Linked DNA regions of Homo sapiens: region 1 is linked to region 2. Evidence: fine-mapped expression QTL. A gene starts in region 2. The other region holds a variant in brackets. All regions are shown on one strand. Distances are from middle to middle.

Region 1 (5,512 bases), 84 kb after region 2:
CGCTCTTGAACTCCTGACCTCAGGTGATCCACCTGCCTCGGCCTCCCAAAGTGCTGAGATTACAGGTGTGAGCCACTGCACCCGGCTGGAACTCTCCTTTCTAAAACCATCAGACCAGCAGGGCATGGTGGCTCATGCCTGTAATCCCAGCACTTTGGGAGGCCAAGTCTGGTGGATCACCTGATGTCAGAAGTTTTAGACCAGCCATGCCAAAATGGTGAAGCCTCGTCTTTACTAAAACTACAAAAAAAGTTAGCCAGGCATGGTGGTGTGCACCTGTAATCCCAGCTACTCCAGAGGCTGAGGCAGGAGAATCACTCCTGGGAGGCGGAGGTTTCAGTGAGCTAAGATCATGCCACTGCACTCCAGCTTGGGTGACAGAGCAAGACTCTGTCTCAATAATAATAATAATAATAATAATAATTAAATAAAACCATCAGATCTCATGAGACTTATTCACTATCACAAGAACAGCATGGCAAAGACCCGCCACCAGGTCCCTCTCACAACACAGGGGAGTTATGGAAGCTACAATTTGAGACTTGGGTGGAGACACAGCCAAACCATATCATCATACATCCTAAAACATGCACTTCCACCGAGCTTTAGGTGTAGGTGGCATGAACCTATTTTGCATGCTCACTAATAATTTTTTTTCTCCTTCCTTAAGGGCTGAGATTTGCTTTCATTGTAGCACACTACCAGCAGTCAGGTGGAGGGAATGAGAACTACAGCTCTCCCTGCCTTTTACTGCTGGGGGCTTAGGTCAGTTTCTAATACCAAGAAAAGAGGTCTCAGGCTTGTAAAGAGGCTTTAGGTTCAAGTAAACATGAGGACAGTCTTGGAGGATGGGAAGGAGCTTTGGAGAGTGACTTGGAACCCAAAGGCTAGTGTATTTATGGCCCGATTTTACTGTATTTATTGATTTTACTGTATTCCCTCCAAAATACCAGGATTTACAATTTAAGACTTTATGGAAACAGGGGCTGGGGGATACCCAAGTGATGAGAGAACCCATGGAGGCTTATATTGATATTTATTGCTGTCATTCAATAGAAGAGTAGAGGAGCTTGGTGACCTTTTATACCCCTTTAACAAGGGGTTCTGTTCAATCCCTTTCCATATCCACCCCTGGCACACTGTTTTGCTTTGCTTCGCTTCAGACACCATGGATACCAAGAGGCATGATTTTTCCAAGGCTCATGCTCTATCCAGATGTTCAATGTCTTGTGGATTTGCAATTTGGAGTGCCTCTATCACAGCCCAGAGGCACTCGTGATTTGCATTACAGGACCTCACACTTTCAGGTTATGGAAAATGTATGGAGATGTCAATGACATATTAGAATTCTGTATAAAAGGAGGAACTTAAGGGTTCTTTTGTTTGTTTGTTTTTGGTAGGAGGAGGTTGCAATCTGCAGATGTGCCTGGGTGGTGGGTGGGGGCGGGGAGGGCGGTGTTTTACGTTTCTTTTCTCTCCCAGCAGTGTCTGACCTCTCTACGCTCAGATGTATCATATCCACTCACTCAAATGTGGAGCCACTCTCAGATGACAGAATCACCAAAAAACACCAGGAGAAGGTATTAAGATGCAGATTTCTGGGTTGGCTTTAGACAGAGAGAGAGAATAAAAATGTTATCTCTTGGGGTGGGGACAATTGTCATTTTAATAAGCTGGGTCCCAGAAATATGCATTTTAAATAGGCCAGGGCCAAGGACTCTGAATTTGCTGGATTTTTATTTATTTTTTTAGAGTGTTGCTCTGTTACCCAGGCTGGAGTGCAGTGGTGCAATCATAGCTCACTGCAGCCTCCACCTCCCCGACTCAAGTGATCCTCCCACCTCAGACTCCCCAGTAGCTGAGACTACAGATGCATGCTACCATGCCTGGCTAAGTTTTTTATTTTCTGTAGAGATGGGGTCTCGGTGTGTTGCCTGGGCTGGTCTTAAATTCCTGGTCCCAGGTGATCATCCCGCCTTGGCTTCCCAAAGTGCTGGGATTACAGGCATGAACCACTGTGCCTGGCCCAGCAACATAATTTAAGAATATGAATTAAAATTCAGTAGATTCATCTTCCTGTGGGAAAGGTACATTGTGCACCCCCCGCCCTCCAACCAATTAGGTCTATCCTTATTTATTTAGAGACAGTCTTGCTCTGTTGCCCAGGCTGGAGTGCAGTGGCACAATCTTGGCTTACTGCAACCTACGCCTCCCGGGTTCAAGCGATTTTCCTGACTCAGCCTCCTGAGTAGCTGGGATTACAGGTGCCCACCATGCCCAGCTAATTTTTACGTTTTTAGTAGAGACAGGGTTTCACCATGTTGGCCAGGCTGGTTTCAAACTTCTGACTTCAGTTGTTCTTTTCGCCTCGGCCTCCCAAAGTGCTGGGATTGCAGGCATGAGCCACTGTGCCCGGCCTATTCAAGTCTATTCTAGATGCCTTATGAGCAGACACTTGTGCTCAGCATCAGGAGCCTGACCTTCTAGCAGGAAGCCCTAGGCTTTATTCCCAGCTCTGGCCCATGTGAGCCATGCAGCCCCTGTGAGCTATTTAACTTCTGTGCTTGTCCATAGATGGGGGCAGCGCCACATATAACCTTCCAGACAGGATCCCAAGGGCGCCACATGCAACGGCTATGAAAGCATGCTACCTTCTGAAAAGCACTGCCATGTACTGCGTGGGTCTCCATTGTCGTTAGAAGTCATCTGCAGTGCCAGGCCTTCCCAGGCTCCTGAGAGAACACACATGACAGCGATCAGGAAACTGAAAAAGCTGTTCATGCTAGGC[G/A]GCTGGGTGCAGGAAGAAAGGGCAACTACATTCTGTTAATACATTCGGGTGCTGTCATTTCAGAAATGGGAAGTGGGACTTATATGTTACTTTATATTCTTTCTTTTTTTTTTTTGAGATGGAGTTTCACTCTTGTTGCCCAGGCTGGAGTACAGTGGTGCGATCTCAGCTCACTGCAACCTCCGCCTCCCAAGTTCCAGCAATTCTCCTGCCTCTGCCTTCTGAGTAGCTGGGATTAGCAGTGCACGCCACCACGCCCGGCTAATTTTTTTGTATTTTAGTAGAGATGGGCTTTCATCCTGTTGGCCAGGCTGGTCTCAAACTCCTGATCTCAAGTGATCCACCTGCCTCGAACTCCCAAAGTGCTGGGATTACAGGCGTGCCCAGCCCTTCATATTCTTTGAACCATGAGCTCATGAATGTACCATGAGCATGTATTACTTTTATGATTCCCTGGTTAAACACAAATGAGATTTTTACTGTCAGCCTCAGACCCTTGTGTTCAACTAATATGTGACCACATAGTGACTGGGCAGGCCAGCCCTCACTGCTGGGCAGAGCTGACTCCAGTGCTTGATGCAAGGGGATGCCAACACAAAAGAGGACAGGGATGGCATATGGGTCTCCTCAGGAGCATGGGGTCCTCGTTCCACCCCGTTGTTTCTAGAGGGGCTAGCCCATCCCTCTCTGGGCTTCAGTGTCCTGATCAGTAAAATGAGGGGATGAGGATGCAGACAAGAGCTGCAAGATCTTTTTCAGTGAATTTCCTGACACTTAGGGCTTCTGGGTGAAGCCACTGAGGGGCTAGGGACATCGGTTTGGGGTTGTTCTCTGGGATTCTTGCAACCTTCAGAAATGCCCCAGGAGCTGACTGGTGTGGCGCCGGCCAGTCTTCTAGCCTGGCTATAGAGGAAGCAATCAACGGGCCAGGGGCAATTAAGGGCCAGAGTAAATCTACTCTCCCCCAGAATCAGCCCTGTTGGGAACGGCTGTGTGCTATTCCAAGTTCATGCCAATTAACTAACACTCTCTCATTTAGAGGGCAATTCCTTCTAAAACACACTGTGACTTCCAAGGAGCTGGATAATGCAATTCTGCCTGCTCCAATTACCGTGATCCGAGATCACCCAGGCCCAAACTCCATGAGGGCGCCTCAGCCCAGCAGCCTGTCATTCCCTCTTCCCTCAGCCTCACTGGAGGTTGTCGTCTTCCTGGGGAGCTGGAAAGCTGCAGGCAAGGGGCTGTGCAGTCATGACACCACTATTCACCCTGGCCTGGGGCCAGCTCAGATAATACCTCTCATCACCCCCGGGGCCCCTCGCTTCCTTCTTCCTCTGGGATGGGTATGTGAGGCATCTGGGAAGTCACCACCTACCACCCCAAAGGGTGGTGAGGTAATCCCCAGACACGGTCTAACAAGTGCCTGGGGTGAAAGAGGCTCTGTGTGGAGGAGAGTGCCTCCCTGTGTTGCTCTGAACCCCCAGGAGCACTTCACTGATATCCTGGCACCCAGAAGAGATGAGAAGTTAACGCGGTTTTCTTGTCATCACAAAAGCATCTTTCATGCCATAATCGAGTCTGGATTGGAGGGAAGATTTCACTAGACAGTGGCCAGAGGCTAGACACTCTGTTGGTTATTGCCCACCCCTCCACCCACTCAGCCATTTGAGGATTCCTATTGTAAGCAAGAAAGTGAAGGAGACAGGCACACTGCCTAAGAGGGGGATGCTGACATGCTAAGCACAGGGAAGCAGGACGACGTTCAGTTTTGACCAGAGTTAGCCCTGCAAGAGCAGGCTCTGTCACCTGGGCTGAGGGGGTGTGTTCTGTGATGCTGATGACTAGGGACTCAAAGGAGAGGGGCAGCATCCTCCAGAAGGTGGCTCCAGGCTGGTCACCAGCAGAAGGAAAAAGGGGAAAGTTGTCTTAACTGCGCCCACCTGAGTTTCAGGCACTTGACAACTGTCTCATCAGGTAGCTGTGGAGCACCCTCCCCTCCACTTCTCCACCTCCTGTAGCCCCTGCCTCCTCAGAGACTTGGCCATGCTTCCCCACAGCATACTCTGGAGGATACGGATGTGGGGAAAGCGTGCTTCCTGCCATTTAACTTCTCAGAAGGCAGCAATGGTAATGACAAATCCCAGAACTTAATGTTTTTACCTCTAACCAAAGTCAAAATGGCAGGTGCCCACAGTTCCAGTCTGTGCAATGACAGCAAACCCCGGGGAGTGACTGGGGAGGGCACAGAATCTGGAATAGCCTTTTGCTCTTGCATTAACTTTGAAATTTTTATTACAAAAATGTCTTTCCAAAAAAAATTTTTTTTTTGAGATAGAGTCTTGCTGTTACCCAGGCTGGAGTACAGTGGCACTATCTCAGCTCACTGCAACCTCTGCCTCCCAGGTTCAAGCAATTCTCCTGCCTCAGCCTCCCAAGCAGCTGGGATTACAGAAGCGCGCCACCACACCCAGCTAATTTTTTATATTTGGTAGAGATGGGGTTTCACCATGTTGGCCAGGCTGGTCTCAAACTCCTGACCTCAAGTGATCTGCCTGCCTTGGCCTCCCAAAGTGTTGGGATTACAGGCGTGAGCCACCACGCCTGGCCAAAAACATTGTTTTTTTTAATAGTAGAAGAGAGTATACAAGTGATTTAAAAAAACACAACAAAATCATTCTGCCCAGGTAATCACTGTATTAGTTGTGTGTCCTTCAAGATCATATA
Region 2 (5,000 bases):
ATGGTGGGTCGGGTGGGTGCATCGCCCGAGGGGCCCCTGGAGGGGAGAGCTGGGGGAGGGGGTGTCCTGGGCCTAGTTCCATCCCACAGCTACTTTCCTTCACTGAACAGGAGACCTCCCCTACGACCTCAGAACTCTCCTTTTGCAAATGAGGAAACAAACCCAAAGAGGGGAATAACTTGCTCGGATTGCCCAGTAAATTACAGCTGAGGCAAAAACCCAGGGACCTGGCTTCTGATCCAGAGCTTTTTACAATCCCTCACACCACATCGGGACCTCTAAATGAAACTGCTCTGAAACACCATGTCTGGGCTTTCATTCAAAAGACCAAGAAAAAAAAGGTGTGTGGTGGTGGGCGGGGGTGTCAGGGCATAGATGAAACGGTATTGGCAAAATATGGATAAGGTTTAAAGCTACTTGATGGAAGGGCTGCAGTTCACACATCTCAGTCCCACTGACTAGTCCTTTCGGGCTTTGGGTGCTGTCCAGACCCAGTAGAAACCCAGCTATCTTGGGTTGGATGTAGATGCAAATCCACCTTGGACTCCCAAAGTACCTATAGGAGCCAGAACCAATAATTGGGAGCTTCAAGATCTGGTCACAGGGGATGTCATTTCCTTAAGGCAGGATTGGACCCCAAGAGAGGAACCTCCAACAGAGAGAAAATCACCAGACTTGACCGACCCAGGCCTCAAAGAACGTTGCTCCACTCATTCCTGGGCTCCTCTCACTAACAGCTAGCCCCTTAAACCCCAACTTTTTTTTTCTTTTTTTCTGAGACAGTGTCTCGCTCTGACAGCCGGGTTGAAGGGCAGCGGCATGATCATAGCTCACTGCATCCTCAACCTCCTGGGTTCAAGTGATCCTCCCAACTCAGCCTCCCAAGTAGCTGGGCCTACAGACGTACACCACCACACCTGGCTAATTTTTGTATTCTTTGTACAGATGGGGTCTTGTCATGTTGCCCAGGCTGGTCTTGAACTCCTGGGCTAAAGCAATCCTCCCACTTCGGTCTCCCAAAGTGCTGGGATTACAGGCTTGAGCCACTTTACCTAGCCCCAAACTTTTTAAAATTGGCTAATCGGGACTAAATATCATGAAAGAGTGCGACGTGGTCGGTTAAACAAGGACAACCCCGTTGTCCGTGTCTGAAGACCACTGCACATTTCCCAAAAGCAAATTTCGAAGTGGAGAATTTAGAAACCAACTTCCCAGATGAAGGATCCCACAGAGAAGTGAGTCCGTGGAAATGATAGAATCGCCCGGTTCCTTTCTCTAAACTCCGACTTCCTTTCCCCAAGGACATCCCAGGAGGGTTCAAACGCGCCCTCTCTAAGGCACTCTGCCAGGTCTCCTGATTTCCAGTTTCCGGGAGGTGAGGCCGGCTAGGGTGCCCCGAGGGCCTGCTCTAGAGAAAACCGCCCTCAGGTGAGGACGGCTTCCATTTCCGGGTCTGAAGATAAGGAACAGCTTATCTTCGGTCTCCGCCCTCCTGCCTGCAACCCTCACCCACTGACCACGCCGGCCAGTCCGCCGCGCCAGGGCTGCCCTTGGCCTGGTCCCCGGGTCTCGGTGGACCTTCGACCCGGGCCTCCCAGCTCTGGCCTCCTGCATCCACCCCGCCCCGACCTCAAGCTGCTTCCGGAATAGAATGAAATCCAGCTCGTTAAGCTTCGCGGGGAGGTGTGTCCACCCGCCCCGCGCCGACTCCGGCCGCACTGTCGCACTTCACTCGCACCAGCCAGTGGCCAAAGTGCTTGGGCACCTATTGCGCCAGGCCAGGAGCCGGAAGTCTTACCTCGCCCTCACCCCAACTCTTTGCCCCACGTTCCCGATAAGAACATGGAGGCTCGGAGAGATTAATTTGCCCACGTGCAAGCGGCAGCTAAGGGGCGGACGCGGAACTTGAACCGTGTCCCTCCTAAACCTGCCCCTTGTCCGCCGCAACGCGCCCTCGACGCGCACAAAACCCTCACTTTGCTACTGAGGAAAGTTATTCAATGGCCAGAGACACCCTGCGGCTTTTGAAAAGAGGTTTCAGGCTGACAAATATCCATATATACATATATATTTATATTTAAGCCTAAAACGACTCTTTGATCCCTCCCCTAAGACCTCCTTCCCGTCCGCCTAGGCCTCGGTATCCCCCACCAGGTATGAGAAGGAGGAGTCTTCATTCTTCCCAGGCGGGGAGACCACGCCTTCCCTGCCTCCTCCCTCCGCGGGGGGTCGCGTTGGAGGTCACCCCCGCCCCCTAGGCGCTGGGTTGGGAGTGACGCGGGGTGGGCTGGAGAGGTTTCCTGCCGTCTGGGAAGCGTAAACGGACCGCCCACCTGTCGGGCCTCGGCCGCCCGCACCTGCTTGTGAGAAGCCTGCGGCTGGGGCACCGCCCCCGGTCCCCGCCCGGGTCCGCGCATTGGGAGCACACTGGCCCTTTAAGAGCGCGGCGGCCGCGGCGCGCGGGGAGGAGGGCTGGGAGCGCCCGGAGCCGCGCTGAACTCGCCGGGGACGTCGGGCGCCCGCTCCTTGGCTGGCTCGCTTGCTCTCTCGCTCGCTCTCTCGGGTCGGCTCCCTGCGCCTCCTCCCGGGACTGCTTGGGGACCCGGGCCCGGTCGGGCGCGGCGGCGAGCAGAATCCCCGTGCAGGAGGCGCGCGCTCCGGGCAGCGCCCGGCCCCGGGCATGGACAGAGGGAGCTGGGCGCGCAGGGAGCGCCGCGGGACCGGGCGGCCGGAGCGCTGAGCCAGACAAAGGCTCCGGAGTTGCGCTTGCTCTCGGGAGCCGGGCCCCAGGCGCTGGGCGCCGAGGCTGCGGAACCTCGCCGGGGGCAGCTCCGGTCGGCCCCCTTTCCCGCCGGCTGGTTCCGAGCTCCCGGACCTGCCCTGCCCGCTTCTCCTCGGGCTTGGGAATTTGCCGAGGCGACCTAGGCGGCTCCGGCGGGGACCGGGAGCCCGAGGTCCGCGGCGCGCCTGCCGGGCCAGGAGCCAGGGAGCGTCGCAAGTTTCCAAGGCGCGTGCGAGGATCCGGCGTGCAGTGTTCCGAGCTGGGCTGGGCGCCGAGAGCATGGGCAGCGACCCGAGCGCGCCCGGACGGCCGGGCTGGACGGGCAGCCTCCTCGGCGACCGGGAGGAGGCGGCGCGGCCGCGACTGCTGCCGCTGCTCCTGGTGCTTCTGGGCTGCCTGGGCCTTGGCGTAGCGGCCGAAGACGCGGAGGTCCATGCCGAGGTAAGACCCCCGCCCTGCCCTTTGGCTGCGGGCTGGGGGCTTGGAGGGAGAGGCGCCACGTCCGCAGGCTGGGACTTGGAGGTGGAGGGAGCGGAGACGCGCCCCCTGTTCTGGGCCGTGGCGGGGAAGCAAGCGGACTTGGCAGTCTGCCCCTCCCCAGCTCGCCCTCTGCAGCGCACCTCTTCGCAAACCCTTGAGGGCGCAGGGCCTCGCTCTCCTCCCCGCTACTCCTACAGCCCTGTTCTGGGCACTGAGCCCCCACCCCGACCCCCTTACATTCAGCCTGTGTCCCGGGAGCCGCTTCCGCCGCCCCCAGCCCTTGCCTCCCCTCCTTCCTTCCCTCCAGGGCAGCCGATTCCTCGAGAGCCCGGCTGGCGCGCAGTGGCGCTCTTTGCGAGTGGGGAGGGGGCTGCTCTCGGGGACAGCCACAGGCGGAGCAAGAGCTGGGCGGCTGGGCAACTGCGCTCCTGCCCAGGTGGCCTCCCGTCTGGGTGATACCGAGCCGCGCACGGCGGGCCAGGATGGAGGCGGGGGGATGGGTGCAAACGGCTGAGGCAGCGGACTCGGGTTGCGGGGGCGCTTTGGCGACTTTCTGCGCTTTTGCGAGGAAGCCTAGGCACGCCCGGGCGGGGTCCTAAGGACGGACCCTGCCTCCCACAGCGCTTCCTCCCAACAGCGCCCCTACGTCGAAGCCCTGGATTCGAGAGGGTGGACCCCGCGCCTCTCTTCGCTAGGAGCCCGCTTGGCGTCCCTCCCGGGGCCCCGCTCTGGATGGGTCCCGCGGGTGACCAGGCGCGACATCCCGGCGTAGAGCCGAGTCCAGCCAGCGCCCCAGCTCCATGGTGTCTCCCGAGCGAGGACACCGAAGGCGCCAGCTTTCTTGCCCCAGAGCAAGAGCAGGGTCCACTCTTCCCCGACTTCTAAGACCTGCGCCCTGCCCCAGATAGGCGGGGAGAGGACTTGGGCGGGGAGTAGGGAGAAAGAACCACCCCGGAGCCGCTTCTGAACGGTGCTCAGGCCTTGGTGCCCTTGGGCTGCCCGGGCTGCGGGCCTGAGCGCCGTTTCTATTTGCAGCTCAGCTGGTGCTCCCTCCCTGGCCCACGGCGGCTTTCCCACCTCTCCGGGCTGCCTGGGAGATTTTTCCGATGGAAGCTTGCCCTTCCCCGCCCTACTTTAATAAAAGCATAGAGGAAGGGCAGGGAATTCCTCCTGGGCTCGAGTTACACCTCCCAGCCATTTCCCCACCTGCTCTGCCCTCCCTCCCTGGCCTGGCCAGGGAGAGCTGAAGGAGGAGCCAGGCCCTGGTGGGAGGCAGGATAGGAGCCCCGCCCCGACCCAGTCTGGCCACCCTCCCCCACCCCATTCACACAGGCAGGAGGAGCTTTAGGGGGCTCCTGTTGGTGAGGATTACCCCTCAGCCTGTGACCCAAGTACTGGGCGGAGAGTGCCATTTGGGCCCACCTGCCACTCTGGGCTGGAGTGCCAAAGAATTTCAAGTCACAGTCCCACCATTGAGTTTCTAATCTACTTAGGGATGGCGTCAATACATAGGAAGCAGTGATGGAATTCAATGGCCGTGCATTGCTAATGGCATCCTAGCTGGCCAGGAGCTCAGGGGTGCAGGGACCTGTAGTTGGAGGGGCTTCACTCTCTCTCTCTTCTGCTTTTCCAGTTCCATCTCACCCCTACCCCAACTCCCCAGCTCAGGGAGTGCCCACAGCTCGATGCCGCCAGGGAAGAAGCCATGGTTGCGTTATCACAAACCGTGCTCCTGATC

Evidence for each region.
Region 1: its variant is fine-mapped to the expression of MMP15 in whole blood (INTERVAL, PIP above 0.99). The same link has a PIP of 0.9 or more in blood mononuclear cells.

Annotation. Positions count from the first base shown.
Region 1 is chr16:58,106,700-58,112,211 of GRCh38, forward strand. No RefSeq gene overlaps it. Among named protein-coding and RNA genes, the nearest start is that of CFAP20, 20 kb to the right of the region's middle. RefSeq lists an enhancer at 2,739-2,788. The variant G/A (reference allele first, on the strand shown) is at 2,789.
Region 2 is chr16:58,023,290-58,028,289 of GRCh38, forward strand. MMP15 (matrix metallopeptidase 15) reads left to right here and starts at 2,465. Exons shown (of 10, transcript NM_002428.4): 1 at 2,465-3,223. The coding sequence starts at 3,062. RefSeq lists enhancers at 1,074-1,661, 1,662-2,247, 2,480-3,029, 3,580-4,129 and a silencer at 2,474-2,613.